Regions from separate parts of the Homo sapiens genome. Here region 2 is linked to region 1. Evidence: fine-mapped expression QTL. A gene starts in region 1. The other region holds a variant in brackets. All regions are shown on one strand. Distances are between the middles of the regions. Region 1 holds the start of CSRP1 (cysteine and glycine rich protein 1). Region 2 overlaps CSRP1 (cysteine and glycine rich protein 1).

What was found.
Region 2: its variant is fine-mapped to the expression of CSRP1 in whole blood (TOPMed, PIP above 0.99).

The regions. Positions count from the first base shown.
Region 1 is chr1:201,500,593-201,516,630 of GRCh38, reverse strand. CSRP1 (cysteine and glycine rich protein 1) reads left to right here and starts at 9,508. Exons shown (of 6, transcript NM_004078.3): 1 at 9,508-9,561. CSRP1-AS1 (CSRP1 antisense RNA 1) reads right to left here and starts at 9,418. Exons shown (of 2, transcript NR_160747.1): 1 at 9,212-9,418. LOC124904484 (a long non-coding RNA gene) reads left to right here. Exons shown (of 2, transcript XR_007066793.1): 2 at 6,630-6,907. RefSeq lists an enhancer at 4,206-4,415 and silencers at 4,566-4,645, 9,177-9,806.
Region 2 is chr1:201,476,268-201,492,305 of GRCh38, reverse strand. It overlaps CSRP1 (cysteine and glycine rich protein 1), which reads left to right. Exons shown (of 6, transcript NM_004078.3): 3 at 1,962-2,130; 4 at 3,322-3,451; 5 at 6,930-7,023; 6 at 7,517-8,776. The coding sequence ends at 7,593. Among named protein-coding and RNA genes, the nearest start is that of PHLDA3, 15 kb to the right of the region's middle. RefSeq lists an enhancer at 8,989-9,318 and a silencer at 11,699-11,788. The variant G/T (reference allele first, on the strand shown) is at 8,412.

The DNA of each region.
Region 1 (16,038 bases):
GCCCCCTGTAGCAAAGGAAACTTTTATTGGGACCACTTCTTTATACCCTGAGCTATGAAGAGTAAATCTAACCTTTCTAAAGTCACATACATCTGCACTTAGTGGGGGCTCAGGTGATGGAGCTCCAGTGCTCATAAGCAAGTGAAAAACATAAGGTAGATTTAATATCTTGTAGTTCTTTAGTCCTTCTCATTGCCAGGGTGGGTCACAGAATGCCCATAGTAAAGGAAGCCAAAGTCTCCTTCCTCTTTGGGTCTCAGGGTCCAGATATTGTGTAGCTGGAAGCTCACTACTGAGACACTCAGCAGCTGCCAGGCAGGCAAACTCCCTATTTCCCACACAGCCAAGCTTGACCACCATTATTCCTGGCTCGTGCACCCTTTCCTATAAAGTTGGTGGTTGACATGGAAGATCCTGGACATTCAGGTCATAGTGCCATCAAGGGCCTTGGGCTGTCAACCTCTGCTGTGGTCCTTGATCTCACTCCCTATTCATCTCTGTGAAGCTGCCTTCTAACCTGGGGCTGTGTCTTATCTCTGACCCAGCTCTTGCTCATGCATGATGACTGCTCCCTGCTTCCCTGTATTACCCCCAAATGATAGCTGTTATGCCTTGTGGTTGCTTGTGAAACTGCCTTTGCAAAATTATAACTGAGGAAATTATGACAGTAAAGAAATCAGACCTACCTAACCATTTTGCTTCTAACCTTTAAGCTGTCCTTGTTCATTCCTGGGCATAGGTGGAAATAACTTTGCCCTGAAGGAATTCAGTTCATGATTTGACTCTAAAACAAAATTAATAATAGACCTTTCCCAAAAAGACCCTCTTCCTGCCTGGGGACCAGTCTGCCTTTGCAGGGCTAACAAATTAGCTACAAGATTCGAAATTACAGTTTAGGGGTCACGCAGTCTCTGGCTTGAAGAATCTGAACCTCCTTAAATTGTTCCTAGGGATAACACTACTGTTGTAAAACCTAAGATCAGTGCTTGAGATATCTTGCAGACCCTACACTCTGGGTGGATCAGCTGACACAACCCAGAACTGTAATCTGGCTCAACCAGTTCTGCCATCCCACCCAGGAACAGAAAATAGCACAAAAAACTCACTTCGACCCTCTATGATTCCATCTCCAACCTGAGCAATTAGCACTCCCCACTTCCCAAGCCCCTACTTGCCAAATTAAAACTCTGATCCCCGAATGCTCGGAGAGACTGATTTGAGTAATAATAAAACTCCAGTCTCCTGCACAGCCGGGTCTGCGTGAATTACTCTTTCTCCATTGCTATTCTCCTGTCTTGATAAATCGGCTCTGTCTAGGCAGCAGACAAGGTGAACCCGTTGGGTGGTTACACTTGTGTGCTTATCTTATCTCTCTTGCTACAATACAGTTTTTGTTAACTGTTGCTTTCTGGTTTGGCCCCTGCCTACTACTGTTTTTGAGGACTCAGCTTGGACACAGCATCTGGTTATTCCTGGTCACTTGCTATAAGAACACAAAGTCAATTCTCCCCCCTCTAAGAATCAGTCTTGGTAGGCCTTCACCCATGATTGCTAGTCCACTGCCTTTGCCAGCTGTGAGCTGCCATCCATCCCAGCCTCCTGTCTGCCCCTTGGAGTCCACTTCAAAAGTCATCTTCCTCTTCCTCAGCATCTTCTCTTCGAAGAAATGTTTCTCATAAGTCTTGGTGAAGATGGCTCAGTAAATACTTCTAAAACCTTATGTTTTCCCTTAGCAATGCCAAGTCTGTAAAAACCACTTTCTTTCCTAAAAATGCATTTCTGAAGGTACCATCAATGAAGATCTCTGCCTGAAATGACCTTCCTGCCAGCAGCAAGTTGTATTTTCCCCAAATGGTTGCAATAATGCTTTCCATTCCACATACTCTTCCAGAACCTTGCCACTCACACATCAGGAAATGGAGTCTCTGTCCCCTTCTTTGAAACTGGGTGGGGCTTCGTGACTGTCTCAACTAGTGGAGCACAGGGGAAGATCTGCTATGGGCCTTGCGAAGCCAGTTTTCAAAAGGCAAGACAACTTTCTCCTGCTATCTCTTGGGATGCTTCTCCTTGCAACCAGCCACCATGCTGTGAGAGAGTCCAGGCCCCATGGAGAGACCACATGTAGGGGTTCTGGCTAACAGCCTCAGCTGAGGTCCCAGCTGACAGCCAGCATCAGCCTCCAGCCACAGGAGTAAGGGAGACTCAGTGAAGAATCCAGCCAGCTCTCATTTGACTGTAATCACAGGAGAGATCCCAGCAAGAACAATCGGCTGAGCTTGGGAAAACCCTAAAACCATGAGAGAGAAAAACAAATGACCGCTCTGTTACACTACCAAGTTTGGGGTGGTTTGTTGCAGAGCAATAGGTAACCAGAATGCTGTCCATCTCCATACATTATGAGCCTAACCACCCTTTATGGCCCAGCTCATTAGCCTGTCATCTCCCATGTAAGCCTTCTCTGATCCCCACAATGGAGTTCTCTCCCTGTCTGAACTCCCGGTGCTCTTCCTGTGCCAGTCTCCTCTCCCACATCTGGGTGCACACTTCAGCTCTCCCCTCCCTGTAAAGTCTCCATTCTCCATTCATATCTCTCGGCACCTAGCCCAGTGCTTGGCACATAGTGGGTGCTCAATACAGGCTTTCTCTGTCTGGATGCGTGAAGGATAGGGAAAGGGATCTTGGGGAGAGAACATCTACCAGTGGAGAAGAGAGGGTCCTGAGTTGCAAAACAGCTTCCAGGGCTTTCAAAGGCCTTTTTCACTGACTAGTGTCCTAGGACATTTTTGGCTTCTCTGCTAAGAATGTAGGATATGAGTTAGAGTCAAAAGGATTTATGAATAAGTATCAAGTTGTCAGAGGTGTTTGAGCTGGAGCAACTCCATCTTGTGTAGGGGATGTGTAAAATAAGGCTGAGACCTACTGGGCTGCATTCCCAGACGGTTAAGGCATTCTAAGTCACAGGATGAGATAGGAGGTCAGCACCAGATACACATCATAAAGACCTTGCTGATAAAACAGCTTGCAGTAAAGAAGGATGCCAAAACCCACCAAAACCAAGATGGCGACGAGAGTGACCTGTCCTCACTGCTACACTCCCACCAGTGCCATGACAGTTTACAAATGCCATGGGAACGTCAGGAAGTTACCTTATATGGTCTAAAAGGGGAGGCATGAATAATCCACCCCTTGTTTAGCACATAATCAAGAAATAAGCATAAACATGGGCAAAAAGCAGCCCTCAGGGCTGCTCCGTCTATGGAGTAGCCATTCTTTCATTCCTTTACTTTCCTAATAAACTTGCTTTCACTTTACTCTATGGACTTGCCCTGAATTCCTTCTTGCGTGAGATCCAAGAACCCTCTCTTGGGGTCTGGATTGGGACTTCCTGTAACAAAGGGCTCCTTGGAAAGAAAGGATTGTCCAAGCTGAGGGTTTTCTTAGGATTACAGTGTATGGCCACTTGGGGGAGCCGAGGTGCGGCGAGGTGTCTTTCACAAGTTCACCAGCAGGTGGCAAGCTTATTCGTGGTTTCTTGCAAACTATGGATTTATCCACGCACACATTCATAAAATACTGAGCACCTACTCCATGTAAGGCTCTGTGTGGCTACAAAGGAGGGTAAGCTACAATTCCTGCCCTCCAAGACCTTCCAGGTGAGTGAACTCAATGTTTCCTTAGCTTGTCTTTGGGTTGAAATAGTTCTTCAAAAGTCATCCAATCCTTTCTTCTGTCAGTGTAATTTAATATAATCGACCCTGATGGAGGAGAGGAGTCAAGAGTCTTGCCAAGGCCGGGTGCAGTGGCTGACGCCTGTAATCCCAGCACTTTGGGAGGCCGAAGTGCACGGATCACCTGAGGCCAGGAGTTTGAGACCAGCCTGGCCAACATGGTGAAACGCCGTGTTGCAGGGTTTCTACTAAAAATACAAAAATTAGCTGGGTGTGGTGGCGCATGCCTGTAGTCCCAGGCTGGGAGGCTGAGGCAGGAGAATCGCTTGACCCCAGGAGGTGGAGGTTGCAGTAAGCATAGATCGCCCCACTGCACTCCAGCCTGGGCAACAGACTGAAACTCCGTCTCAAAAAAAAAAAAAAAAAAAAAAAAGAGTTTTGCCGAAAGTCTGGTTATTTTCAGTCTACTTCACTGCTTTAAGTAGATTGGCCAGGTGATCATAGATAAGATCAGAGCAGTGAAGGTGGTGTGGCTAGGGACCAGGAGAACAGGGAGAAAGAGATTTTAAAGCAGGAGGAAAGCAAACTGATCAGTAGATTAGGAGCTGGCGTGATTGGAACTGGGCCTGTCAGAAAAGCCTCTCCTGAGCCTTCAGCCAGCTCCCTGTGGCCACACTTCCCTAGAGCCTGTCAGGCTCGGAACAGTGGAGCCATGCACAGCCAGCTGCCCGGGAGCTCCCTGCCGCCTGCTCCCGCCCTGAGTCCCCAGCTCCTCCTGCTTTCCCCTCCCCACACTTTGGCTGTGAGAGCCACTCCACAGTTTTGCCTGTTTGGGACAGAGGCAGTGGCTGCAGAGGGAGCAGGAGGGAAGTGACCTTACATCAATTTCAGGCCAAGGGGAGGGGAAGAGGAAGTGGTCATTTAAAAACCTATCTAGACTGTTTCACAGTGTTCTTAAGGACCCAACCCTGAGCCACCCCAGTGCATTTCTGAATATCACCTTTCAAGCTCCCCTGGAGCTTCACAGTGTAAATTTCAGCCTGAAAATCAGAAGAGATTTCTGGATCAGGAACCCCCTAGAGTTTTTATTTTGTTCCTTTCTAAATGGATTTCTCCTTTTCTTGCCTCTAAGCATTTTATTCTTATAACATGTATACACTGCCTTTTCCGATTTTCATTTGCCTCTGGCTGCCAAGCTCATTTCTCCAGCAAACCCTGAGAGATTCTAGGAATCTTCCTTAGAAAACATGAATACAGGGACTGAAAGCAAATGCTGGGCCTTATTCCACAAGCCCCCTTTGACTTGCCTCATCCTAGCCTAGGCACAGCCGAACAGTGCCAGAGCCAGGGAGAGCCTTGCAGATCACCCACGTGGGTAGGCGGGCCTAGTCATATTCCCAGGGGCCCACAGAGATACTACCCACCAAGCACGATACATTTCCTAAGAACTCCATTTCTCTGAACAGTAAGTAATTTTATTTATTTATTCATTTATTTTTTGAGACAGGGTCTCACTTTATCACCCAGGCTGGAGTACAGTGGAGTATAGTACGGCTCACTGCAACCTCTACCTCCTGGGCTCAAGCGATCCTCCCACCTCAGCGTCCCTAGTAGCTGGGACTACAAGCATGCCACCATGTCCAGCTAATTTTTGTATATTTTGTAGAGACTGGGTTTTACCATGTTGCCAAACTTGGTCTCAAACTTCTGGACTCAAATGATCCACCTGCCTCAGCCTTCCAAAGGGTTGGGATTACAGGTGTGAGCCACCGTGCCTGGCCAGTGAGTCATTTTAAACATTATCTTTTTATGAAGACAAATACAGTTATGTGCCAAGGAGAATGCAAAATTCAAATAAATTTTTGCAATAAACCCCAAGACTTCAAGGACTGGGAGTGGATTGATTCTGACAACACTGTGGGTTCCTTACATTTACTTCTTTGCTGTCAGAGGTACCTCAGTGGAAATTTTGGAGAATACTGAGTTAGTCCAACCTCCCATTTCACACATGAGGAAAACTGAGGCCTAGGCCATGGTCACAAAGCTACTAAGTTAGCTACTGCTGTAAGCCCTGGTCTCCTCACATGCAAAGCAGGGGGTAAAAATAGTCCTTACTTCATACAGCTACTGCGAAGATTAAAGGGGACAATTGTGTAAAGTACCTGACAGGTAGTAAATGCTTAATAATTATAATTATTCCTCATTATCAACAGTATTTTATTTGTTTTTTGTTTTTTTGAGACACAGTTTCACTCTGTCACCCAGGCTGGAGTGCAGTGGTTGGATCTCGCCTCACTGCAACCTCCACCTCCCAGGTTCAAGCGATTCTCTTGTCTCAGCTTCCACAGTAGTTGGGATTACAGGCACATGCCACCATACCCGGCTAATTTTTCTATTTTTAGTAGAAATGGGGTTTCACCATGTTGACCAGGCTGGTCTTGAACTCCTGACCTCAAGTGATCTGCTGGCCTTGGCCTCCCAAAGTGCTGGGATTAAGGCATGAGCCACTGCGCCAGCCATCATTAGTATTTTAAATCATAGATGACAGAGCTGAGACTCAAACTGCAAGTTTAGGGCTGGATTTTTTTTTTCTTTTTTTAGACCATTAGATGAGTAAACTTCTTGAGGTCAGGATCCAAATTATAGGCTTCCTTGTATTCCCAGAACCTAGAGACCAGCACAGAGTGGGGCCCCAATAAATGTCTTCTGAGTGAATGGTTGGATGGATACATGGATGAACAGGTGGATGGACGGATGGATGGATGGATGGATGGAGGGAGGGATGGATGGATGGAGAGACAGATGGATGAACAAATGGATGGATGGGTGAATGAATGAATGGATGGATGGACAGATGGATGGAAGGATGGACAAGAAGATCTCCAGCCCAGACTGGATCTCTAATTTCTCTGGGATGATGAGCAGAGCTAAGCCAGACACATTCCCTTACTCTTTCCTCAGCCTCACACTCAGGTCCTCTTCACTTGGGATCAATGCGGAAAAGAAGGGTTTCACCACAGGAGAGGAGAGAGAAGATGTAGCATCAGGATGCTGATGAGGGAGGAAAGAGAAGAAAAGATGCCAGAGGAAGCAGCAGACAAAGTTGGAAGCTGGAGGACAGGGGCCCTACTTCCTGCCTGTAACAGGCCCCACTTCATTCCTAGCAGCCATCAAATACCAACCCAGAAGTGTTGGGAAATAGAGTGCACAGAGAGAACATAAAGATACTGAAAAGGTTAGACATTTGTGAGAGTCCTGAGAAGCAGGTAAGCCCCTAAGTGTGCCAAGCCTCCTTCTAGAACCCCTAGCAGATAATTTATTGGTGATGAGCTCTGACTGCATTGTCTCTGCAGATGTGGGTGCTGCTGACCAGCTCGGGCCAGTCTAGATATGGTTATATAAATGAGGTCAGCCAGAATGAGAACCTCTGCAGAATGAGAATCTCTGCCTTAAGGATGTCCCAAGTATTGATGATGTTTACTGATTTTTCTGTCATTTCAACATCAGGCTTGTTCCTGTTTGCATGGTGGGTAACCCCAGCATCACCTTTGACTCAACTCAATCCCAAAGCCCTTCCTCATCCCTCAAGTCTTCTTTATCTGCAAATGTGCTATCTAAGACCAAGCCCAAGTAACTGGCAGCAGGCTGGGAGAATAATATAGTCAGAAGGTGAGAGGTTCTGGAAAAACACCAAACAAGGCAGGTCCTACTTGGCTTCATCTGTAGCTCTGCGTAGACAGCTCCTAAGACAAGTGACCTGACAGTCTTTGGGTGGAAAAGAGGGGTGACCATCTGCCCTGGACTGCCTGAGATAGTCCTGTTGCCTTAGTGTAGTTACGAATACTACCACATACCACTTACTATCCAAAGCATTCTGGTTTAGATGACACATTGTACAGCCATTCTGTTTATAAGGTGCTTTAAGATCTGGGAGAAATCCAAGTGTGACTGCAGTGACTGCTCTTCTTTTTCTGGATCTACCCTAAAGCCATTTCACAGCACAGGTTGGCATGTCCTCACAGGGAAATCTATCAACAGTCCCATGACTCCAGAGAGGACAAACCCAGACCAAAGAAGGTAATGTAGGAGTTTGCCCTTTTGTAAAATCCTGGGCAAAACTCCGAGGCTCATCTCTCCAAGATACTGAGAATTGAAAGGAGAGGGGGAAATCCCATGGGATCGCCATCTTTGGGCGGAAGCCCTTGGTCTCTGACACTGATGGTGGTTCTGCAGTTTAATGGACCTGTTTAACTATTGCTTAGTCAGTGCAGCCGTGACCAGAAATTCTTCTGGTTTCTCCTCCTTCATCTTGGTTGGGTCAGATGAAGATGGCCCAATCTGCAAGAAACACTGGTTGTGTGCTTCTAGACATTTTAATCTTGGAGGGCCTTGTTTATAGGATGGACCTGGCCAAAGGAAAGATGTTACTTATGGTAGAAAGCAAGAAAAACCTAGATAAACACTTTTTTTTTTGAGAAACACTCTTGCTCTGTCGCCCAGGCTGGAGTGCAGTGGTGCAATCTTGGCTCACTGCAACCTCTGCCTCCTGAGTTCAAGTGATCCTTCCACCTCAGCCTCTCGAGTAGCTTGGATTACAGGCACACACCACCACGCCTGGCTAATTTTTTTAATTTTTTTGTAGAAACAGGGTTTCACCAGGTCTCGAACTCCTGGGTTTAAGCAATCTGCCTGCCTCGGCCTCCCAAAGTGTTGGGATTACAGGCGTGAGCCACAGTGCCTGGCCAAATACTTCATTTTCTAGATCATAAGATGCTTAACTTTATTCCTGGCAAAAAGTTGATTCAGCAAACCAGGGCTTTAAGTGAAGCCGGTTGGGGCCTGAACCCTTGACACCTGCCCAGGGTGGAAGACATAGCAGCTGCATCTATGGGCCACCTGGGGTGTAGGGTGACCAGCTGGAGGCTGTGAGCTTCTCTGCTCCCTGAAATGCCTGCACGGGGCACTCAGGAAGGGCTGGGGACTGGGTGAGGAGGTGTGGACAGAATGTCCCCTGGAAACTGCCCCAGGGGCAGCTTGAGTGGCCTGAGCCTGTGTCTGTCCTACTGAAGGTTGGAGCCCCAGAGAAAAGCCTCTATGGAGGCACCCACTTTTCAGAACTGCTGCTTTTGCGGGAGAACACCTTTTTCCAGGTGTTGTCCTTAGGGTAGCAGGGAAGACTGGGAAAAACTGAGGGGCAAGAGCTGTTGGAGGGGGGAGTTACATTTATTGAGTGTCTATTACATGCCGGGTGCTGCTGAAGGTCTGCGGGTCCTACCGGATCTCCTTTTAGCCCCTCACATCCCTGTAGATTACACGCCGTTCACAGATGACCCTGAACCCAGAAGGGCTGTCTAGGCCCAGGGCCCAGCTAGTGAGTGGATGGGCAGAATCAGACCTGCCCTGGAAGGGTCTGTCTTACCCTGGCGCCCAAAATGTGTCCCTCACCCTCTGCCACCAGGACAAGTAAATTCGAGACACCCTTTCGTTAGGGGCTCAAGTTTATCATGGGTCTGACCTCTAAGGTCATATCTCCGCCTTCTCACCTGACAGACAGGAAACTCCTGAAATGCCCCTCGCACGTGCAAGACGTTTTCCGCGGTGGCGGCGACAGGGCGCACAGTGGGACCGCAGCACGAGCTCGGAGCACCCCCAGAGTCGGCGACTCCTGCCCCCGCCCCTGCCGGCCGGCCTTCCCGGGGCCTAGGAGGGCAGCACCGCCGGGCTTCGCGCCATGACATCAGCCCTGGAGTGGTGCAGTGTGCAAAGCCCACTGGTTGGCGTGGCCCGGGACACGCCTTCCGCGGAGCGGAACAAAACGGCGCGCAGGCCGGGCGCACCCAGCCGCCACTTCCGAGAGCGCCTGCCGCCCCTGCGCCGCCGAGCCAGCTGCCAGGTGAGTGCGCCCTGAGTCGCGCGGCTCTGCCCGCCGCGGAGGGGCGCCTGGGCACGCACTCAGCGCCTCCCGGTCTTGCCAGCCCCGCCGCAGCCCCGGGGCTGTCGCAGGCGGGGAACTGTGAGAAGTGACCGCAGTTAGCCCGGGCAGTGCTGCTCTTTTCTGGAGGCACTAGGTCCGTCCCCATCCCGGGCCTTCCTGGGCTTCCTGGACACAGTTGACTTCCGCGTGTGCGTGACCCAGGGCGACCCGGCTCCCCGCAACCGCCTGCAAGTCGGGCAGAACAATCGGCGATTCTGCGCGCCACTGACGCTCATTGTATGGCAGAGAGATGAGGGCATCCGTGCCACCCCCTCCCTCACCCTCCTGCTGGGGAGAAAATGCCCGCGGGCGGGGTGGGGCAAACATCTGGGCCTGACCTTGGACATCTGTGTCCCTGAGCGCAGGTGTGAGTTTTCCCTCTTGTGAAATAACTGCATGGAAACCTCTCCACTCCAAATCTTGGTGCTAGGTGGTGATGGTTACTGAAACCTGAAAGAGCCTGCAGTCAGTGTTTTGTGGCCTCAGTCCTTGAAAGCTGGGAAGTGATAAAGGGGCTGGTATTGAGCACATTTAAAGCAAATCACAATGTGTTAGCTAACAATCAGCCCTCTGAGGCAGGTATTGTATCTACTGGTACAGACTAGAGAATATTTTGCATGCTTCTGGTTCTGGTGCTGTTGTGAACTAACCAGGACCCAGGAATCGGCTGGAGCAATAGTGGGCTCAGGCTCTGCCTAGAGCCCTGGGCTCCAGCCACCCACCAGCTGCTCCCTGAGAGTGAATGAATGGGCAGGCTCTCCCCACGCTGGGATACTATCACAGTGGCACCGAGGAAATCCACTGGGCCCTGGTAGAAAGTATATCAGTATATCATGAAGAGGTGGCTTGGAGTCTTGGTGGGATTGTTTGGAAGGCAGAGTTTTGACTCTTGGATTTGCCACTTAACGCGCAGGTTTCCTTGGACAAACTATTTAACTTCTCAATGTCTCAGTTTCTTTCAGGGATGCTACTTGGGGAGCATATTACACAGAACCTCCAACACAGGAGTGATCTCTCAGTTACTGTCTTTCTTGTCCTCCCCTCATCCCTTGCCTTCCTCCCAGAAGCTAAGGAGGCTGGAGGTGCTGGTTGTCTCCCTCTGTCCTCTCAGACTGCATGTTGGGGATTTTCCCCAGGTGGGATTTGGGGATGGGTACTGAGCCTCCCCTCAACTGCTCTCACTCAACTGCTGCCTCCTGACTCTCCAGCTGGTTTCTGGCTACCTCTTTTGAGAGAGACTGTCCTCAGCCCTCAGCTGCTGGAGGGCAGCTTTTACCCATTGTTTCCTAAATCCAGCCTCCTCCTGCTCACGGTCTTCCAGTGAATGACTCTTTGCCTTGGAGAGGATATCCGGGGCGGAGGCAGTCAGACGAGGAAGGAAGTTTATCCTGCAGAGGGTGTAGTGTGGGTTAGAGGAGAGGGAGGAGAGAACTGTCTGCAAGGCCTGAGATGCCCAGGATGGAGGGTATGGGGAAGAAGAAGCAGGAGAGAAACTAAAGAGAAGGCCCATCAACTCTGCAATTGGCCTGCTAATAAAATGGGAAAAACAGGGGTGCTGTGGCCTATTTGCCTGTGGTCTGTCTTAGCACCTGCCTTCCTGGCCCAGGTGTTTGCTCTTTTAATTGCACACATGTGCATCTGCCTCTGGAGCTAGTGAGTCCTGACTGGGCCAGAGTTGCAGCCTGGGAGTGTAGTGACACTTGACTGAGTGATCAGCAAACATTTGATGAATGAGTGGGGTAGCAATGGTCTTTCAGCTGAGTTGGCCTACGGGATACTCATAAACCTTGCAAATAGTTACTAGCCAGTTTTTCCACTTGGGTAGATTGACAAGCAGGTGAGAGAAAAAAGGCGTAGGTTTTTTTTGGGCTTTTTTGTGTGTTTTTGTTTTGAGGCAGTCTTGCTCTGTCACCCAGGCTGGAGTGCAATGGCGTGACATTGGCTCACTGCAACCTCTGCCTCCTGGGTTCAAGCGATTCTCCTGCCTCAGCCTTCCAAGTAGCTGGGATTACAGGTGTCTGCCAATATGCCCAGCTAATTGTTTGTATTTTTAGTAGAGACGGCATTTCGCCATGTTGGCCAGGCTGTTTTTGAACTCCTGACCTCAGGTGATCCACCTGCCTCGGCCTCCCAAAGTGTTGGGATTACAGGCATGAGCCACTGCGCCCGGCCTGGTGTTTTTTTTTTTTTTGGAGACAGCGTCTCACTATATTGGCCAGTCTGGTCTCGAACTCCTGGCCTCAAGTGATCCCCTCCCTGTCCCCACCACCATCTCAGCCTCCCAAAGTGCTGGGATTACAGGCATGACCCACTGCGCCTAGCAACATAGTTTTTAATTCACTGTCCATCCCTGGTGTGGGAAGCAAATTGGGAAGGCTTTTCTGGCAGGTTGTTAAAGTTTTAAATATGTATGTAAGCCTAGCTTATTGTGAAACGTTGGCTTGCTAGATGAAGACACATGCGTTAAATATTTTGGGATCCAAAGAGGTGCTAGTGAGAATAAGACTTTTTCCTCCAAGTCAGCCATTTGGCATTACTCAGGGCATATTGTCAAATATCAAAAGAGATACAAACCTGAACGATAAGTGTTAGAGTTGGCCTCTCCTTAAGATAAGGATAACCAGATATCTGCACTTGCAGTGTACCAGACAGTGTGAGAAATACTTCACATGTGTTATCTTGGACAATTTATGAGGTAGCTACTGATGCTCTCCATTTTACAAATGGAGAAACTGAGGCTCAGAGGTAGTAAGAAACTTGCTCAGGATCACAGCTGATCAGTTGTGGAGCTGCCATTCAAACATAAGCTGACTGTTTCCAAAACGTATGCTCAGTCACTACCTTATTATTTTTCTTTGCTCCTCTACATTTCCTTTTTCCAGATCAACTCACTAAGGAAATATCTGCCATTTGTGAAACACATCAGCTTTACAAGGTGCTTTACAGTGGCTTATAAACTATTTAAGGAAGATATCTTTCACTTGGATGGATCAGGGTTAGAACTCCTGACCTCCGGGTTTTCAGTCTGTTGCATGGCCAGGTAGGAGCAGAGGGGACCCCTGAGAGTTAGTTCCCAGCCACTAATGGATATGCTTTCACCAGCTCTGCATGTTTGAGTTTCAGAGCCAGGTTTGCAGAAAGAAAACAAGCCTGGAAAAGAGCGTGCTTGAGAAAGAGAGAGCTAGCAAAACTTGAGGGGAGGGCAGAGAAGGTGAGGTGGAGGGGTCCTGGGTTCCGACTGCTGTTTCTAGTTGTCAAGAATTTATATGGTAATGACGTGCCTGTACTACGCAGCTACCCAGGAATGTGTCTGACGCCAGCACTGAGTAATTCCCATGTATGGTAAAGTGTGTAAATACGGGGGCAGCTAGCATTTCCAGACTCTGGTATTTCCAGTGCTTCCCCAGGGCCAGAAGGCAGCGTCTGAGTCTTCAGCGGTGACAACAGGGGAAGAAATGGAAGGTTAGCAGCTGGAGCTCAGCCCCAGCTAGGCAGCCAGCACCCCCTACCCCCGACTGTGTGCCTGGCTTTCTTTATGCAGGGGTGGCGTGTGTTGGTGCTTCCTGGGATGTCAGCTGCAAACGACCTGTGTTTTTAAGGCCTAAGTGCTAATGTGTTTTAACTTGTAAAAAATTAATCAAAGAAAAATCATTCAGACCATTTTGTTCAGCATGGAATAACCAACATCATTACAGATCTGGATAAAAGCAAGGAAACCCCATCTGTTAATTTGTCTATGAGGCTTTATTATAATACAGGATTTCCTGTAGAAGTTTTGAAATACTACAAAGAAGTCATCGACCTCCATTTCTACCTGTGTTGACCTTCAGACTTCTTTTTTTTGAGACAGAGTTTCGCTTTTGTCCCCCAGGCTGGAGTGCAGTGGCACGATCTTGGCTCACTGCAACCTCTGCCTCCGGGTTCAAGCAATTCTCCTGCCTCAGCCTCCCAAGTAGCTGGGATTACAGGTGTGCACCATCACACTCAGCTAATTTTTTTTTTTTTTTTGTATATTTAGTAGAGATGGGGTTTCACGCTGTTGGCCAGGCTGGTCTCAAACTCCTGACCTTAAATGATCCACCCACCTCAGCCTCCCCAAGTGCTAGGATTATAGGAATGAGCCACTGCGCCCTGCAAACTTCTGAACTCCAAGAGTAGGGAGCTCTGCTCTAGAAGGCACTGGGGGCAAGTGGGGAAAGGGAGAGACATATACCGCCCTTGTCAGCTCACAGTCTCACAAGGGCCACTGGACATGGATTTGAAAAGAGAAAGCTCATTCAATAGAGAGAAGGATTCCTGACCTAGAATGACAGTCAAGTTCTGGAGGCCCATGGGGCCTGGATTGATGGTAGCTCAGTGATGCTGGTTACCTTTTCAGAGAGGCGGGTCATGTGCACGGTTCTGAAGGAAACATGAGGTGGGACATGGAAAGCTGAGGCCAAGCCTGCCCCATCTCCATGGCAGCCATTCTCCCCCTACCCGTGACCCTGAGCTTCAGGAGAGGCTGATTTCCTGAGCTCTCAGGTGTCACTTCTAAGACTTGGCTCTGAGCCCTGACCAGCCCAGCCCCCTCCTCTCTCTGCCCTCAGCTGCTCTCTGGACACTGGGGCGTGGAGGCAAAAGCCGAGCTGCAGATTGGAAGGGATGCCAGCCCTCCTGTCCACCTGGCAGATACCAAGCAGCTCAGCTAATGCGAGGGAGCTAGATAAACATCTGACAGGTTTCTACTGGAGCAAGTGGATGGGGACTTTAACCCTGTGCCGTCAGTCACTCTTTGGCCCTAGGGAATAAATGATTTTGGAATGGGAGAGATGGGATTTTTCCACTGTAGAAATAAAGATATGGGATGGTTTTGAAGGGTTTGATAAGAAGGGGCTTGCCTTCAGACACTGGTGGCTGGCAGTTAGGGATTTTACATCTCTGCGATGGTTCCTTCAACCTGTCACCTGAGCCAGACTTTATTTATTTATTTATTTATTTATTTATTTATTTATTTTGAGACTGAGTATTGCTTTATTGCCCAGGCTGGAGTGCAGTGGCAAGATCGCTGCTCACTGCAACCTCCATCTCCTGTTTCAAGCAATTCTCATGCCTCAGCCTCCGGAGTAGCTGGGATTACAGGTGCCCGCCACCATACCCGGCTAATTTTTGTATTTTTATTAAAGATGGGGTTTCACTACATTGGCCAGGCCGGTCTCGAACTCCTGACCTCAAGTGATCCGCCTGCCTCAGCCTCCCAAAGTGCAAGGATTACAGGCGTGAGCCACCACACCCAGCCGAGCCTGACTTTCATGAGATTTGGGGTGACTGAGAGTCTGTGACCTTTTTCTTCTCCTTTTGCTGCTGCTGTAAGAGCTGCCACCTTGGCTTTCTTGTCTCAAGGCTGAGGATCTGGGTACAGTCCTAACTGGGGATCTGGGTACAGTCCTAATGGGACAGCCAGGCTAGGAAGATGCAGCAGCAGACACAGCAGGCTTCTAGCCGCCAGCCGTTTCAGGAAAACAGCTGACCAGGTGTTTCCAGCCATTCAGTAGAAAATTCAAGCTCTGTTCTCTGTTGAGATGGTCAACAGAGTGAAATGGGACATCACAGACAGCTGGGGGGAGCTAAACCCCAAAGAAGGGCAAGTAACTTGTCCCAGACTCATTCGCTGGGCTAGCAGATGAATCAGGAGTTCCTGGCCCTATTTGGCATGGTACTTCTTAAGCCTCGCTCCTTCCATATGTGGACTAGCTACATGTGGATGGCTGGCCCACATCTAGCAGTGTGGAGTCGACGTATGACTGGTCCAGTCGTGTGAGTGGTAGTCAGAGGGGCGGGCACTTACAGTGTGCTGGCCATCACTTCCATACCTCCTCATTTAATCCTTACAGCTGAATTTTAGGGAGTCCATATACGGTCCATTTTAGAGACAAGCAAATTGACACTCAGAAAGGAAAGTAACTTGCCCAAGATCATTCAGCTAGGAAGGGGTAAATCCATATTGATCGAATCCCAGCTCTTGTTTTCCTAACCATTGACCTGTACAGCCTGAACTCTGACCTTGGGAACTTCTCTTGTCCCAGCCTTCTGCAGGGCCTCTGTGCCGGAGAGCTGGGAAGGCAATTAAGAAGGAGCCAAGTGTCCCTCTAAGGCACTCCATGAACTCTGAGAAACAGGTTTCCTTTTAAGGCAATTCGGCCTCCCTACAGGCAGAATTTGGCTGTTGGAGAGAAGGGCAGAAAGGGAGGAGGTGGAGTGAAGACTGAGCCCTGCCTGTTGCCAGGGTTCCCTCCAGCTGAGCCTCTTCCCCACAGGCAGGGTCACCTGGAGGGGTCCTCTTGTGGGCAGAGGGGGACAGGACCTCATCCACAGGCACTGCCTGAAACCCTTCCTGGCTAGGGATAGAGTCATCAC
Region 2 (16,038 bases), 24 kb after region 1:
GAGCCATCTGGAAGATGTCAACTTGCAGGCCCTGAGGTCTGCCCTGGGCTGAGTTCCTGGGTCTCCTACTGGAGAGATCAGCCAAAATACACCTCTGTTCCCCCAAGCACTCTTTGCTTTCTGCCTTCTCTCTGGTCTTGGAATTTTCAGTTCAATTGGGATCTTACAGGAAAACAATTCCAGGCCAATTCCTGACTTCCCACCCTAGAAGGGAATGTTGGAGCCCTTGGCCTGTGGTTCCCTCTCCCTCCTTCTTGGGAGCTGGTCCCGGGGGGAAATGGTGGGAAGTTCCATATTTGGATGGCCCAGAGTGCTGGAATGAGATGGAGATCTCCAGAGCAGGACAAGAGGGTCCTTATTTAGTCTGAAGTCTCCAACCTGGGGCTTAGGGTGAGAGAGGAGCTGGCAGAGGGATGGACCCTTTAAAGGCAAGAGGATGGCAGTTGCAAGGAAAGGAGCTGAGAGCTTCTCCGAGGGTGGTAAAAGGCGTGGCTTCTCCAGTGGTATCCCTCGGTTTCTATGTTCAGGACATGTTTGAGGATGCGTCCAACTGAGATGCTGAACTCCAATATTTAAGGAATATGATCAAACCGAATTAGGATTACAGGACAAGTAAAGAAAAAGAATGCAGTTGAATCTCTTGAGAGGAGTATGTGAAAGTTAGAAGCAATGATCTCTTGAAGCTGGGGCCTGTCCCTCCCACTTCCTTGTCTCCCGATGGTACTAACTTTATATAATACTAATAAGAGTAGCCAACATTTATTATGCATTTGTTGTATGCAGGGTATTATGCCAAGTACTTCACATGTCAGATCTCATTTGATTCTCACCACCAGCTTTTGGGGCAGACATTATTATGTTCATTTACAAATGAGGACACAGAGGCTGGAAAGGCAAAAAAAACTTGCAAATGGCTGGAAAGGGAGAGAGCTGGGATTTGATTCTGGGCAGTCTGACTCTTCATGACCCCAGGCTCTGAACTGCTTTAACTTTATTTTTATTTTTAAAAGTTTTATTTATTTATTTATTTTTAAATAAATAGAGACAGGGTTATGCCATCTTCCCCAGGCTGATCTCAAACTCCTGGGCTCAAGTAATCCTCCAGCCTTGGCTTCCCACTGCTGGAACTACAGGCATGAGCCACTGCACCCAGCCCAAACTGTTTTATTCTGGATAGCTGGGCATAGCTCCCCTCTGAGATTAACAGGACGAAATATGAGGCCCACAGCCTTTCCAGCTCAGACCATTGCAATCCCTAGTTCCTTCCGTTCCACTCTCTCTTACCCCAGGAGTCAGGAAGTTCTTCTGTGTCTGACCCTCACTTCTTCCTGTGGTAAAGTGATTTCTGAGATTAGAAACTTCAAATCCTCTTGTGATTAGCATGAGCTGCATCCCATTTCAAAGCCCACCATGTTGGGCACTTAATAAATGTTAAACATTTCTTATGGGGTATCACATCACCTGCATCTCCCCCCGTTGGCTCCCTGCCAACATGCACAGATAGTCTCTTCTGGATTCCACTGTTGAAGGCAGGAAAACTGCCCTTCTTTTCTTTTTCCTCCTCCCCCATTGGGACATATGGTCTCTGTTGAGGGCAGAGTGAGGAACCTCAACAGGCGTCCTGTGGCTTGGGGTCAGCCTAGGCTGTTGCCTCTGAACCCTGTGTTGCACTGCAGCCTGAGGAAGTTTAGGGGTGCAGAGGACCAAAGGAGACACATATGGATTCCTGGAAGAGGAATTGGTGTTGGCCAGCATTTCTAGAGTCGGATATGCAGATCCCATCCCTCTGTCCTCCCACCCATTGGCCATCCCGCCTGCCTCCATTTGTAGACAGTTCCTGAAAGATCAGGATATTATGTATGCAAAGAGGCCAGAGAGCTTCAGCTGTAAGAAGCTTGCAATGAGCAAGAAGGTCACCCCAGCTTCAACTCAATGCGTCCGCTTCCCCTTCCCCTCCACAGTGGTCTGCAAGAAGAATCTGGACAGTACCACTGTGGCCGTGCATGGTGAGGAGATTTACTGCAAGTCCTGCTACGGCAAGAAGTATGGGCCCAAAGGCTATGGCTACGGGCAGGGCGCAGGCACCCTCAGCACTGACAAGGGGGAGTCGCTGGGTATCAAGCACGAGGAGTGAGTAAAAGATCCCCTCCCAACCTTTTTCTTGAGCTCTCTCCCCCACCCTGTATTAGGCCTCATGTGTATTTACAACCATTTTTGGGTAAGCAATGGAAGGCTCAGAAAACCAGTTATTTAAAAGGCAGTCACAGAGCAGTGTCTATGTGTCAGGCTGCTGCAGGAGCTGGGGATGCAGCAGGGACTAAAACAGGCTGGGCTCCTCCCTGCAAGGAGCGTGCATTCTATATTTGTATGAGAGTCAGAGCTGGGAGGGGCCCCAAGAATCACTTAGTCCAATTTCCTCTTTTTTTGTTTTTTTTTGAAAGGGAGTCTTGCTCTGTCACCCAGGCTGGAGTGCAGTGGTACAATCTTGGCTCACTGCAGCCTCTGCTTCTTGGGCTCAAGTGATCCTCTTGCCTCAGGCTCCCGAGTAGCTGGGAGTACAGGCATGTGCCACCACACCCAGCTAATTCTGTATTTTGTAGAGACAGGGTTTCACCATGTTGCCTCCTCTTTTTATAGATGAGAAAATCCAGCCCAGGCTCAGTGACTTGCCTGGGGTCCCACGGCTAGTGAGTGTCGGAGCCAGATCAGGGGCTCAGGGCAGCACCGTTGCCACACCAGCCTCACTGTCTCAGCCCTGCTATCTCTCACTACTGAGAAGAAGTCATTTCCCTTTCTTCGAAATGCCATAGGGTGTCATCAGCCCCACCACACCCCCCTCACCCCACGGCACTCCCTGGCCTCTGGGTAAATGGTGGCTGTTGGCAGTCAGCCTGGCTTGCTCCTCGGCCTGGGGGGTGGACGGAAATGATGGATGAATTACCAAGTTTCAGCCAAGGTCATTGCCCCAGTGGGAATGATTCATCAGCAGATTTCTCCTGTAAAGAATCTGATAATAGACCAGCTGCAGGAATGAGGGGCAGAGGAGGGCAATTCTTAGCAAATGGGGTGTTAAATGATTCTGGGGTTAACTGGGTGACCGAGGGAAGTATGATGTTACAATGGAAATAACATTGTGCTGAGGCTTGGTTTGTCCATCTGTAAAATGGGAGATGACCCTAGAGGCCCTAGCCTTTGTGACTTTGGCAGAGAGAATTGCGCGCTGCTCTGGCATGAGATGAAGGTAGGGTCATGCCCTCTCAGTGCCAGCCCCACCTGTACTTACAGTGTAAGTCACCTCACCCCATGCCCTTCTCCATGCAGAGCCCCTGGCCACAGGCCCACCACCAACCCCAATGCATCCAAATTTGCCCAGAAGATTGGTGGCTCCGAGCGCTGCCCCCGATGCAGCCAGGCAGTCTATGCTGCGGAGAAGGTGATTGGTGCTGGGAAGGTAAGGTGGCTGCTGGGCATGAGAGGGATGGGGGGAGATATCTTCCTGAAATGTGGATTCCAGAACTTTTAAATTGGTGACCTAGCTCTGCTCAGGGCAGCCTGAGCACTGGGGTTTAACCTCTTCTCTTTGTCCCTGTGGGTTGCATGTACCTGTGCTTTCCAGTCTCCAAGGAGCTCATATCAGCCATGAGCAGTAACATCCCCAGCATTGATGGACAATGGGCAATTCATAGGGAGTGGCAATGATCAATCTGTATCTCTAATATAGGAGAACAGAAAGTAAGGGTACGTGGATGGGCTGCAGAGGGTCCACAAAGCCCTGAAGATTATATACAAAGTTTCATGGGAACCTGTCTGTTTCTTAGAAGAAGATCCATAGCTTTTATTAAATTTTCAAAGGATTTGTGATCCCAAAAATATACATTCTGTTTCATGGGATGTGGACTCCCAAAAACCCATCCAAATACCCCCAGGGCAGAGATTTTCAAGGTTCAGACCTACCAGAGCCTCCTAGGAGGCTTTTTTCACACTGTTTAGAATTGCCGCACATGCCCTTCCCCCATGATATTCTGACAGTAGCCCCCAATCACCAATGCACAGTGAGAATCACTGTAGCAAATCAACAGTTCCCAATTGAGCTGATCACTTCCTTCAGATAGGCTGCAGTAGAGAAGAGGCAGAACTCTTGCCCCTGGGGTTTGCAGTGTCAGATTAGCAGTCAGAAAATCACAGAAGAGATGTCTTTCAGCTGTGGGGCCAGAGAGGAATTCTGGAGCATCACGTGAGGCCTGAGATAGAAAAGTGACTTGGCCAAGATCACACAACAAGGTTATGGAATGTCTGGGCCTGGAGCCCATCTTCATCTCTTCTGGATTCAGGTTTTGGCTTTCAAGGCTTTTTGACCTTGAGGAATGGGATAGGGGAATTGATCAAGAAATGTTAAACAATTAACACTTAGGCCAGTGTTAGAATCTCTACTCTCACAGTCATGGTTGGACAGAGATGGGGATTAGTATCCCTGTTGTACAGATGAAGAAACTGGGAGTCAGGAGGATTACATAATTTGCCCAGATCCGCTAGCTAGGAAGGGGCTAAGCCAGACTCAAGCCCAGGTTTGTCTGACTCCGAAGCCCTTGCTCTTACTGCTGTTACTACTGTTAATGCTACTTTGGGCCATTTAGCCTCTTCAAACCCATTTCCAAGGCTGCAAAATGGGAGGGGATCCTAGCACGGTGATTAAGAGCTTGGACTCTAGACAGCCTGCTTTGAATCCTAGTTTTGCCATTTATTGGCTGAGCGAACTTGGGAAAATTTAGCCTTCCTAAGCCTCAGTTCTTCAGCTCTAAAGTGGGCCTGGATGGTGGAGGAAATGCAAAGTGGACCAAGTAATGGCCCCTGACAAATAAGGCAGTTTTTTTTTGTTTGTTTGTTTTTGTTTTTGTTTTCTTTTGGCAGAATTTCACACTTGTCACCTAGGCTGGAGTACAGTGGCGCGATCTTAGCACTCTGCCTTCCGGGTTCAAGTGATTCTCCTGCCTCAGCCTCCCAAGTGGATGGGACTACAGGCACGCGCCACCACACCCAGCTAATTTTTGTATTTTTAGTGAAGATGGGGTTTGACCATGTTGGCCAGGCTGGTCTTGAACCAGCCTGGACCTCACGATCCACCCACCTCGGCCTCCAAAAGTGCTGGGATTACAGGTGTGAGCTACCACACCCAACAACAAGGCAGTTTTAATGATTAAATGAGATAGTACATGTATAATGTGCAATGTAGTGCCTGGTATGTCCTCAGTACAGTTTTGCTATTGTTATTATTATTGTTGTTTATTTTCAGGGATTATTTTGAGGTCACAATGAAGATCCTTGCCATTGACTAAAGGATATGAAAACAGGAGACATTAATATTATTATTAAGTTGGGTTTTTTGTTCTATCTCATTATGAGAATAGAAAATTATTAAGAATAGCTAAGAATCACTATTTCCATTACTTAGGCAGGCTATAAGGTAAAGTTAGGGCTGTACTAAGGAGTAGGATAAGAGAATTTTGCATTCAAGTGGAAAAGGTAGGGAGAAGCCCCACCTTTCTATTGCCTCGCTCAAGAAATGTTGAGCTGGGAGTACTTTTGGGTGCTTATGAATGAGCAAAGGGATTCAGCTTATTTTGGCAGGGAGGTGGCTAGGAAATATGAGGAGAGGTGTTGGTCTAGGTGTGATTCAGTTTTTCTCCAGCCTAGAGAGCTTGGGGTAGCAGCCCCTGCTTTACAGAGGAGGCAGCAAAGGCTGGGTGACTATTGAGGTTGCACCAGCACTGACCTAGACCCAGGTCCCCCCATTTCAGCTCTCTGGAGGAGAAGCCAATGTGCAAGGTTAGGCAACCAGGAAATCTGAGGGGATGAATTTCCTTTCTCATCCACCAGCCTGGGCACTGGGAGTGTCTTTGCCCTTAAAAGGCCTTGTTTTGTCTTATCTGACTGCTGCCTGCCTCTTGCTTTTCCTGGGTTAAGCAGAGCTGTCTACACATCAGCCTCTTAGCCTGCCCAGCTGTTGATGGGAACTGGCTGCGGAGAAGTCTGTCTGTGCAACGTCCCATCACTGTGTACAAACTCGGGCCTCACTTTTTTTCTGGGACAGCTGTTTGCCCTGTGTTACAGAATGCATGTGAGGACTAGATATTTAAACATATGATGCCTGGCCACAGAGAAGGTATTTGTAATTGGATTCTCCTGGACCAGCCCAGCCTCTGAAGTTCTAGAATTAGGTGCCTCCTTTGCCCAAAGGCTATCAGCTATTGGAGGGGAGGGTGGCAGTATGTCCCTCACTGGGTAGCTGTGAACACTAACTGACTTCACCAGTGTAAAGTGCCTGGCACAGGGCCTGGCACAGAGGAAGCCAGAGTCAATGTTGTCTAGTATCACTTTGGAAGGAGAATAAGTCTATGAAATGCATTAAACTCAGCAGGGAAAGTCCTAAGGAGTAGTTTCTCCAGGGGCCACAGAAGACCCTTTGGGTCTCTATGAGAGGCCCCAAGGCAACACAGGGCAGAGAGGTCTTTCTGGTGAGGGCTGTTCAAGTACTAAGTGACAGTACCAGGAGGAGTGCAAAGCCCTGGCTCACACCACTGATCTACTGGCAAGATGGGTCTGGAGAAGGCTCATCTGGCCCAGCCAGTGGGGTAACAGCTACTTTGGTGTTAAACCCACCCCCTCACCTGCCTTTTGTGGTATAGCTGGTGACCCTAATCATCAGGCCATTGCAACATAGCATGGAAGATGGTGCGAGGTGGCGTGTGGTCCCTGGCCTTCTCCCTCTACTGCCTTGCACCATAGGCCATGTCCTCCCAGCAGCACCAGCTGAGTAGACTTCAGAAGTGGCTTGAGCCCTTATACCATGGTTATGTCAAAGGGAGTGGGCCTGGGGTGGAGGGTACCCTCATCACTGGTGGCAGCCATTAACTATTTCCTTCCCTGCCTAGTCCTGGCATAAGGCCTGCTTTCGATGTGCCAAGTGTGGCAAAGGCCTTGAGTCAACCACCCTGGCAGACAAGGATGGCGAGATTTACTGCAAAGGTGGGTGTTTTCACTTCTAATTGAGGGTCAGGAGGCCCAAGGGGGTAGGGGGGCTAAGTAGTTTTGCCTTTGCTGAATGTAAACTAATTCCTGGCCTTGGGATCCAAGATCTGAACATCTAGTATGATTCCTTCATTGTACAGATGAGGAAACAAGACCAGAGGGGGAAAGCAACTTGGCCAGCATCATCTGGCAAATTGAGGCAGGCATAGGGCTAGACCCTGGCTTCCTAACTCCCAGTCCAATGTTCTTACAGCAGATGATGCTTCTATAATTTTGGTGGCAGGGGCAATGGGTACAGGGTACAACCAAGAGCCTCTTCGCTATTTTACTATTGAGATTGGGGTGCTGTGGAGGTGAGGGGGTACCAGTGGACCTTCCTTCCCTAGCAGTCTGGCTGGGCACTAGGAGTGGGGGATCTTCAGCAGGAGGGTGGGTGGTGTGGCTGGGGGTGGAGGAAGAACATGCCCTTATCTCTCTCCTCTCTCTGCAGGATGTTATGCTAAAAACTTCGGGCCCAAGGGCTTTGGTTTTGGGCAAGGAGCTGGGGCCTTGGTCCACTCTGAGTGAGGCCACCATCACCCACCACACCCTGCCCACTCCTGCGCTTTTCATCGCCATTCCATTCCCAGCAGCTTTGGAGACCTCCAGGATTATTTCTCTGTCAGCCCTGCCACATATCACTAATGACTTGAACTTGGGCATCTGGCTCCCTTTGGTTTGGGGGTCTGCCTGAGGTCCCACCCCACTAAAGGGCTCCCCAGGCCTGGGATCTGACACCATCACCAGTAGGAGACCTCAGTGTTTTGGGTCTAGGTGAGAGCAGGCCCCTCTCCCCACACCTCGCCCCACAGAGCTCTGTTCTTAGCCTCCTGTGCTGCGTGTCCATCATCAGCTGACCAAGACACCTGAGGACACATCTTGGCACCCAGAGGAGCAGCAGCAACAGGCTGGAGGGAGAGGGAAGCAAGACCAAGATGAGGAGGGGGGAAGGCTGGGTTTTTTGGATCTCAGAGATTCTCCTCTGTGGGAAAGAGGTTGAGCTTCCTGGTGTCCCTCAGAGTAAGCCTGAGGAGTCCCAGCTTAGGGAGTCACTATTGGAGGCAGAGAGGCATGCAGGCAGGGTCCTAGGAGCCCCTGCTTCTCCAGGCCTCTTGCCTTTGAGTCTTTGTGGAATGGATAGCCTCCCACTAGGACTGGGAGGAGAATAACCCAGGTCTTAAGGACCCCAAAGTCAGGATGTTGTTTGATCTTCTCAAACATCTAGTTCCCTGCTTGATGGGAGGATCCTAATGAAATACCTGAAACATATATTGGCATTTATCAATGGCTCAAATCTTCATTTATCTCTGGCCTTAACCCTGGCTCCTGAGGCTGCGGCCAGCAGA[G/T]CCCAGGCCAGGGCTCTGTTCTTGCCACACCTGCTTGATCCTCAGATGTGGAGGGAGGTAGGCACTGCCTCAGTCTTCATCCAAACACCTTTCCCTTTGCCCTGAGACCTCAGAATCTTCCCTTTAACCCAAGACCCTGCCTCTTCCACTCCACCCTTCTCCAGGGACCCTTAGATCACATCACTCCACCCCTGCCAGGCCCCAGGTTAGGAATAGTGGTGGGAGGAAGGGGAAAGGGCTGGGCCTCACCGCTCCCAGCAACTGAAAGGACAACACTATCTGGAGCCACCCACTGAAAGGGCTGCAGGCATGGGCTGTACCCAAGCTGATTTCTCATCTGGTCAATAAAGCTGTTTAGACCAGAACTCTGGTGTCCAATCCTGTGTCTGTGGAGCTGGGAGGGAACTCAATGGGAGCAATCAAATTAGCAGGGGCTTTGGGAGGCCGAGGCAGGCGGATCACCTGAGGTCAGGAGTTTGAGACCAGCCTGGCTAACATGGTGAAATTCTGACTCAACTAAAAATACAAAAAATGAGCCAGGCATGGTGGTGGGTGCCTGTAATCCCAGCTACTTGGGAGGCTGAGGCAGGAGAATCGCTTGAACCCGGGAGGCAGAGGTTGCAGTGAGCTGAGATCACACCATTGTACTCCAGCCTAGGCAACAAATGTGAAACTCTGTCTCAAAAAAAAAGCAGGCAGCCTGGTGGAAATGAATCAAAGTGGATTCGTTCCTGCTTTTTCTAAGGACCAATTACTTCTCAGTATCAATGCCAACTGAACCACACTGTCTGAAGTGACCCGACCAGCCAAACACCACTGGCTTGTCCTGTCTGGTCTCCACCCCCAAATCTGGGCCTGGGAATTGCATGGACTTTGGACTTGGAGGGGCTCAGCTAGGCCCCAAAACTGTGCTCAGAACTTCTCCCAGCTCGGAAAGCCCCAGCCTAAGAGGGAAACTCAACCAGAGGAACTTTCACGTCAAATCTAGAAAGCTCACTTCTACCTAGGAGGGGTGTGGTGGAGGGGCCTGGCTCAGCCTGCTGTGCTGTTAGGGCCCCCACAGCAAGTCCGTGGAAGGCCACATTTTTTTTTGGAAATAGGTTCATGTGAGGGGTTGCGGCATCCTTCATCTTAGGCATACCTGCCTGATGCGTTGGGGCTGTGCTGCTTTGCTTCAGCCCTTCTCGAAAATGTGCCCACACTAAGTTTTCAAAACAAAAGCAGATGCTTTAATAACAACAAGGCCTCGTGTACCTATTTCCCAGATGACCAGCTCCAACAGTGGCCTTGACAGAGGCCCCTCCTGGACTCTGAGAAAGGCACCTATGCATGCATAACACCCATCAATGGTGCAGAGCAATAGAAAAGTACAAGATGACCGGGAGAAGAGCTGGAGGAGTTCAGGGAATGCCAGCCCAGGGTGGGCTCTGGCTGGGAGTTCTGCAATCGGGGTCAAGGGCTCCATCTTGGTAACCCCTCTGGCTCCAGCACAGGGGGTGGCCCACGAAAGGTGCTCCGGACAAGTTTCCGCAGCCAGGAGGACGGCTGGTTCCACACACCCAGGTGGACCCTTCTGTCTGGGAGGGGCCTACAGGAGTGGCCCGGATGGGAGCCTTTGGGGCCCAAAGCTGGAGAGAGGCTGCCCTCTGCTGGCTGATCGGGAGGGCCTGTCGGCGACCGTCCTGTGCCTTGCACCACTAGCTGTCTTGCTCCCGGGCCACTGTTTTTCAGTGCAGCCCCACGGTGGGCAAGGGGCCCTGACGCACCTCCTGGGAATAAGACCTGGGTAAAGGCAGTAGGCTGTAAGCCAGCTGCGGCCAGGCCAGGAAGCACTCACTGGACGGTGAAGGGCCAGCCAGAGGGGCGCATCAAGGAAGGAGGAACACCAGGCAGGGGAGGCACTTGGGGAAGGAGGGTCGGCTGACGGGGAGGGGGCCCAGCATCTGCAAGCGCGGCGCTTGCGCCGTCCCGGGAGACACCAGGTGGTGCTGTGGGGTCAGGGCAAAAGGCAGGCGCTGCGTTTCCGCGCACCCCACGCCCTCCTCCTCTCTCTGTGGACCCTGAGGACTCAGCTCCTGCGCAAGACAGCGCACGCGTCTAATCCCCGACGCTCACTTCTCCTTGGAGGGCTGTCGCGCTTCGGGGCCCTGTGGAATACCAAACCCTCACCAAAGAGTGAGCAAGGACTCTTTTTTTTGAGACAGAGTTTTCCTCTTGTTGCCCACGCTGGAGTGCAATGGTGCGATCTCGGCTCAACGCAACCTCCGCCTCCCGGGTTCAAGCGATTCTCCTGGCTCAGCCTCTGAGTGGCTGGGATTACAGGCATAAGCCACCCCGCCCGGCTAATTTTTGTATTTTTTTGGTAGAGACGGGGTTTCTCCATGTTGGTCAAGCTAGTTGGCCTAGAACTCCCGACCTCAGGTGATCTGCCCACCTCGGCCTCCCAAAGTGCTGGGATTACAGGCATGAGCCACCGCACCCGGCCAGGGTGAGCTAGGTCTTTATGTCCACTTAGGTATTTCTTTTCTCGTTTCTGTCATCTCCGAGCAAGGCGTCCAGGGCGACCTCGGGAGAATGTGTTTGGTGGGAGCTATGCCCAGCTGCAGGAGCGGTAGAGCCCTGGGCTTTTTAGGATGTGATGGAAAATAGCTGCCGCTCCCGATGGGCGGCAGGCCCAGCCTCCTCGGGCTGCCCTTCTCCAAGAGCCTTAGCAAATTGTCCGGGTCACCTGAGAGGCTGGGGAGGGACAGGAAGACCACGAGGCCGACTGGAGGGTGAGGATAGAGATCTTGGGTAGCGGGGGTTGGGGGGCGTTAGAGCTGCTATTAAGTGTGGGAGTGATCCCTGAATCAAGGGCCACAGAAATTATTCGAGAGGGGCTCCCAATCGCTTCTCGACCTTTTGGCTAAGATCAAGTGAGGGGGGCACCCAGCGAGGAACGATCCCCCGACTTAGATCAGTGGAGGTGAGTGTGGCGGAGTGAGGAACACAGGGATTAACAACTGGAAGGTCCGGCCCTCCCCGCGCCTCGCCTCCGTGCCACGCCCAGCCCCGGCCCCGCCTCCAAGCCCAACCTTTATTCTGAGAATCATTGGGGAAGCCTTTAAAAATGGATTCCCAGCCCCACCCCTAGAGATTCTGATTCGGTTGGCCTGGGTGGGGCCTGGGAATCTGTATTCGACAAGCTGCTCTGGTGATTCTCTGACGCTTGCCCGGGCTCAGCCGGGCTTGAGAACCTGCGGACCAGCCCAGCCTCCTAGTAGGTGCCGGCCTCCACCCGGCCGCTCAACCTCAACCACTTAGCTGCCAACAGCTCCGCGCCCCGCCCCGCCCCGCCCCGCCCCGCCCCGCCCCGCAGCTGGGGCTGCCTCTGAACGGTTCTAATGATTAGAGAGGACTTCCTGGAACTTCCTATTTCTGTCCCCTAGAGTCATCCAGAACAGGTCTAATCCCTCTCCTGCATGACAGCGCTTCAGAGATTTGAAGACAGCTGTCGGCTGCCTGAGTCCGCCCCTCCCCACCAGAGATCCCCTGGCCTTTCAGCGCTTCCTGATGGAGGCACCAGGGAGCCCAGTGAGTCCAGTGGAGGAGGAAAAACACAGCCAGGGGTTGGGGGCCGTCCAGTGGCCAGAGAAACAGACTGGGGACTTGCAATAGGTCAAAGGGAAAAAACAGAGGCAGCTCCCCCTGAGAAACGCCTGTCCCCTGCCTTTCTAGGGTGCAACTTCCTCCAACCTAGTCTTCTTTTGGACATTTTGGAAACATTATTATTCATCCAACTTGTGTGCTTACTATATGCTATAGACTGTTTGAAGACCTTTAATGTATTAACTCACTTAATTGTCACATTACTCATCCATCTCGTGTGCTTAATATATGCTATAGACTGTTTGAAGACCTTAAATGCATTAACTCATTTAATTCTCACAATAGCCCTATGAAGTAGGTGCTGTCATTTTACCCACTTATAACTGATCAAACTGAAGCCAAGAACCAAAGAACAATTCAGCAACCCTCTCAAGGTCAAATTGAGCAGGATATAAATGCAGGCAGCTGGGTCCAGGTCCCATCGCTGCAGTGCTATACCTAACATCCTTGCCTTAAGAGGAGACAATTATGTACTGGGAGTATGAGGCCTGGTGCTGGAATGGTGAGTTAGGACCATAGCAATAGCTAACAGTTATTGAGCACATACTATGTGCCTGGCACTGGTCTAGATGTTTTCTTATTTGATCCTCATATAAGCACTAGGAGGTAATTATATTATCCCTTTATTATATAAGAGGAAACCGAGATTCAGTGAATTTTAGAGACTTACTCAAGTCCCTGGCAAGTGGTGGAGCCAGGATTGGAACCAGCTCTGTGACTTTGGGCCTGCCTCCTCCCCTCTGGGTGTCGGCTCCTCATTTGCGAAGTGAAGACGTTGGCCTAAATTAGTTCTGAGGAAATGCTTCTCAAGCTTTAATGTGCATATGAATCTCCTGGGGATCTTGTTAAAATGCAGATTCTAGTTTTGGGTGGGGCCTGAAATTGGACATCTCTCACAAGCTCCCAGGGGTAGGTGGTGCTGATGTTGCTGATCCTGGGACCACACTTGAACAGCCAAGCTTCAGGGGATCCACCCAACTCTGATGTCCTGAGTTTATGGGCCTAGAAAGACTCACCCTAAAGGCCATGAAAATTCAGGAAGCAGATTATCGTGAATAAAGCCTTTAGTGGGCATTTTCCATGCCTGGACAAGCCCTTAGTTCCTTTTCAGAAGCACCTGCTCCTGAACCTTCTACATTTCCACTCTGTTGACCTCAACCTGACTCTTCAAGAGAGTTCAAGGTCTTGGTCCCAGGCCAAGGGGGATTGTTGCTCCCTGCTGGAGGAGTGAAGAGGTATCTCTGTGGCTCTGCCTTCTGGGTACCCAGCAGTCCCATGGCAATCACACTGTCTAGTCCTTTAAGAGATGTTCACAGATATTCCTGGACACACAGTAATATCTACGTTTACATTTAAGGGTTACATTTGGCCTCTTCCCTTGAATTTTGATGTGGTGATGTGGCTTGCTGTGGCCTCTAATTGAGACCAGAAGTGTCACTTCTGAGCAGACTTCTTTTTTTTTATTTTTTATTTTTTATTTTTTGAGATGGAGTTTCACTCTTGTCGCCCAGGCTGGAGTGCAGTGGCGTGATCTCAGCTCACTGCAACCTCTGCCTCCCAGATTCAAGCAATTCTCCTGGCTCAGCCTCCTGAAGTAGCTGGGATTACAGGTGCCTGCCACTACACCCAGTTAATTTTTTTGTATTTTTAGTTGAGACGGAGTTTCATTATGTTGGCCAGGCTGGTCTTGAACTCCTGACCTCAGGTGATCCACTTGCCTCAGCCTCCCAAAGTGCTGGGATTACAGGCGTGAGCCACCGTGCCTGGCCATCTGAGCAGACTTCTTTAATAGGCACGATGTAAGTTTTCATGTCCCTTTTCCCTGTTGTGGAGAGTGTGGAAGTAGGTGTGATGGAACCTCCAGCAACCTGGATATGTGTATATCTCAAGGAGCAGATATACCTCCCCTGCCAGCTCAAGTAGGACATATGGTATGAGTGGGAAGACCTTTGCTATGTTAAGCTATTGGGTTTGGGAGGAGTTTCTTAGCACAGCATAACCTAGCCCATCCTAACTAGTACACATACCAATATCACCTTAGATAGGCCGAGTCAAGTATGGAGACCATATTTCTACAAAGTCAGGATCGTAGCCTGTCAAAGATCTAATGCTTAACTCTGGGGTCTTCTTCAGTAGGAAGGAATATCTTCTTGCAAAAGTAGGGTGGGATTCCTAAAGATGTGAACTCTTCCTCCCCTTCTTTTGCTAGTCCCTGTTAAGTAGAGAACTCTGATTCACCCATTTGCCATTGTGTCCCTAAAGTCTAGCCCAGGGCCTGAATTAAGAATTAAGAATACTTAATTCTTAATTCACACACAATGGGATTTACTCTGAAGTTCCTTTCTATGAATCTTCCTGTAGATCACATCCAAGAATATGCCATGAGCCTTCCTCCCCTCCCTAAGCCCCTCCACACACCCCTCTGCCTTGAGCAATTTGTTAATTTCTCCTTGACCTAAGCCTCAGGCTGGACAACTCACAGCCTCCTTCTCTGCCTGATCTTGACAATGGCACTGCATAGGAGCTTCCCTGTTATCAAAGTCATACTCACGAATAATAATCTTTATAACTCTCATGATGAAACATTTGAAAATCAGAGGCAAGTGGTAAAAAACTCATCCATGATCTCCTCACCTCGAAGGAACTGCTGTTGACACTGTGACCTTTCCTTTCCTATTTTCCTCTGTGCATTCCCCCTCCCCCCATACTTTTAGGGAGAGCCTATGAATGTCTCCTATTTAGGAGGAGAGGGAAAAGCCACCCACAAATGCAGAAAATGGCACAGCTGGAAGGGGACTTACGAATCCTTCAACCAACTCCCTTACATTACCATTGAGAATGCTGCTTTATACTAGTCTGGGTGCAGATGTGTGAAAAGTAAAAACAAATATCTGGCAAGACCCAAACCAAGCTAAGTGATTGTTGTCTCTGGGGTTGGGGGACTAGAAGGGTGGTGAAAAGATACTGTCATGTTTTGAATCTTTTGCAACAAAAATGTATTCAAGTGTTACTTGCATTTAAAGCACATTATTACTAGAAGAAAAGAGAAAGCAACTTTTATGTCAAGGGTTTCATGGCTATTATTGGCATATTGGTTGAGGCCACTAGTTTCCTGGGTATCAGTCAGTCTCCTCCTAGTGTCATTGCCCCTTGGTCAAGTGTCCTCAAGGAAGAGATTCATTCCAGGGCAGCCCATTTTTTCCTACAACATGGGCACCCAGATGCCAAGATGGCATGGGAAAAAGGAAAATTCTGCAGGCCCCAACCTGAACCATTAGCCCACAAGTCCAATCTCTGTAAGACCCACGCTGGGATCAAATGCCTTCAAGCCCAGACTCAGCCCCATCAGAGGGGGCAGTAGGTGCTCTCAAGACGAAAGGGATTCTTGGTGAATCAGGAAAGTTATTGGGCTGGAAAGTGATTAAAGGGCTGAGCGTGGGAGGGGATTTCCACTGAGAGAGCCAGGCCCAGGAGCAAGCCTGGGCGGGTCGGCTGCAGAGTTGCTGCCCACTTGAAGTCTGTCGCAATGGTGCCCATAAAACCCAAGTCATCAGAGACTTGAAACCTTGGTAGGGTTTTTCCTTCTGTTTCCCTTTAGAAAAACAGAGATCCGAGGAAACCCCAAAGTCCTGGAACAAAGGGCTGTACATCAAAGCGGTGCGAGCAGGTCAGGAGAAGTCTGAGGGAGAGGTCAGCTGGAGTGGGTCTCCCAGCCCCCAGCTCCCAGGGAGAGGAGAGCAGTGAGGGACCTGTGGATTGGAGGGTGGGTGCAGAAGCCTGAAGGGAGAAGCAGGGTGGGGAGGAGCAGGGCTGTGAACAGACCCATTTTCATGCCCCATCTAGGTGAGGAGGCACTACCTGGCCTGAGGAATCCAGGGAACAGGTTGAGGAAGGAGTAGTGATGTTTTCTTTTCTTGCCTATACAGGGGTTACATAGCTCCCATAAACTAGCCAGGCTTTTTTTTTTTTTTCAAATATG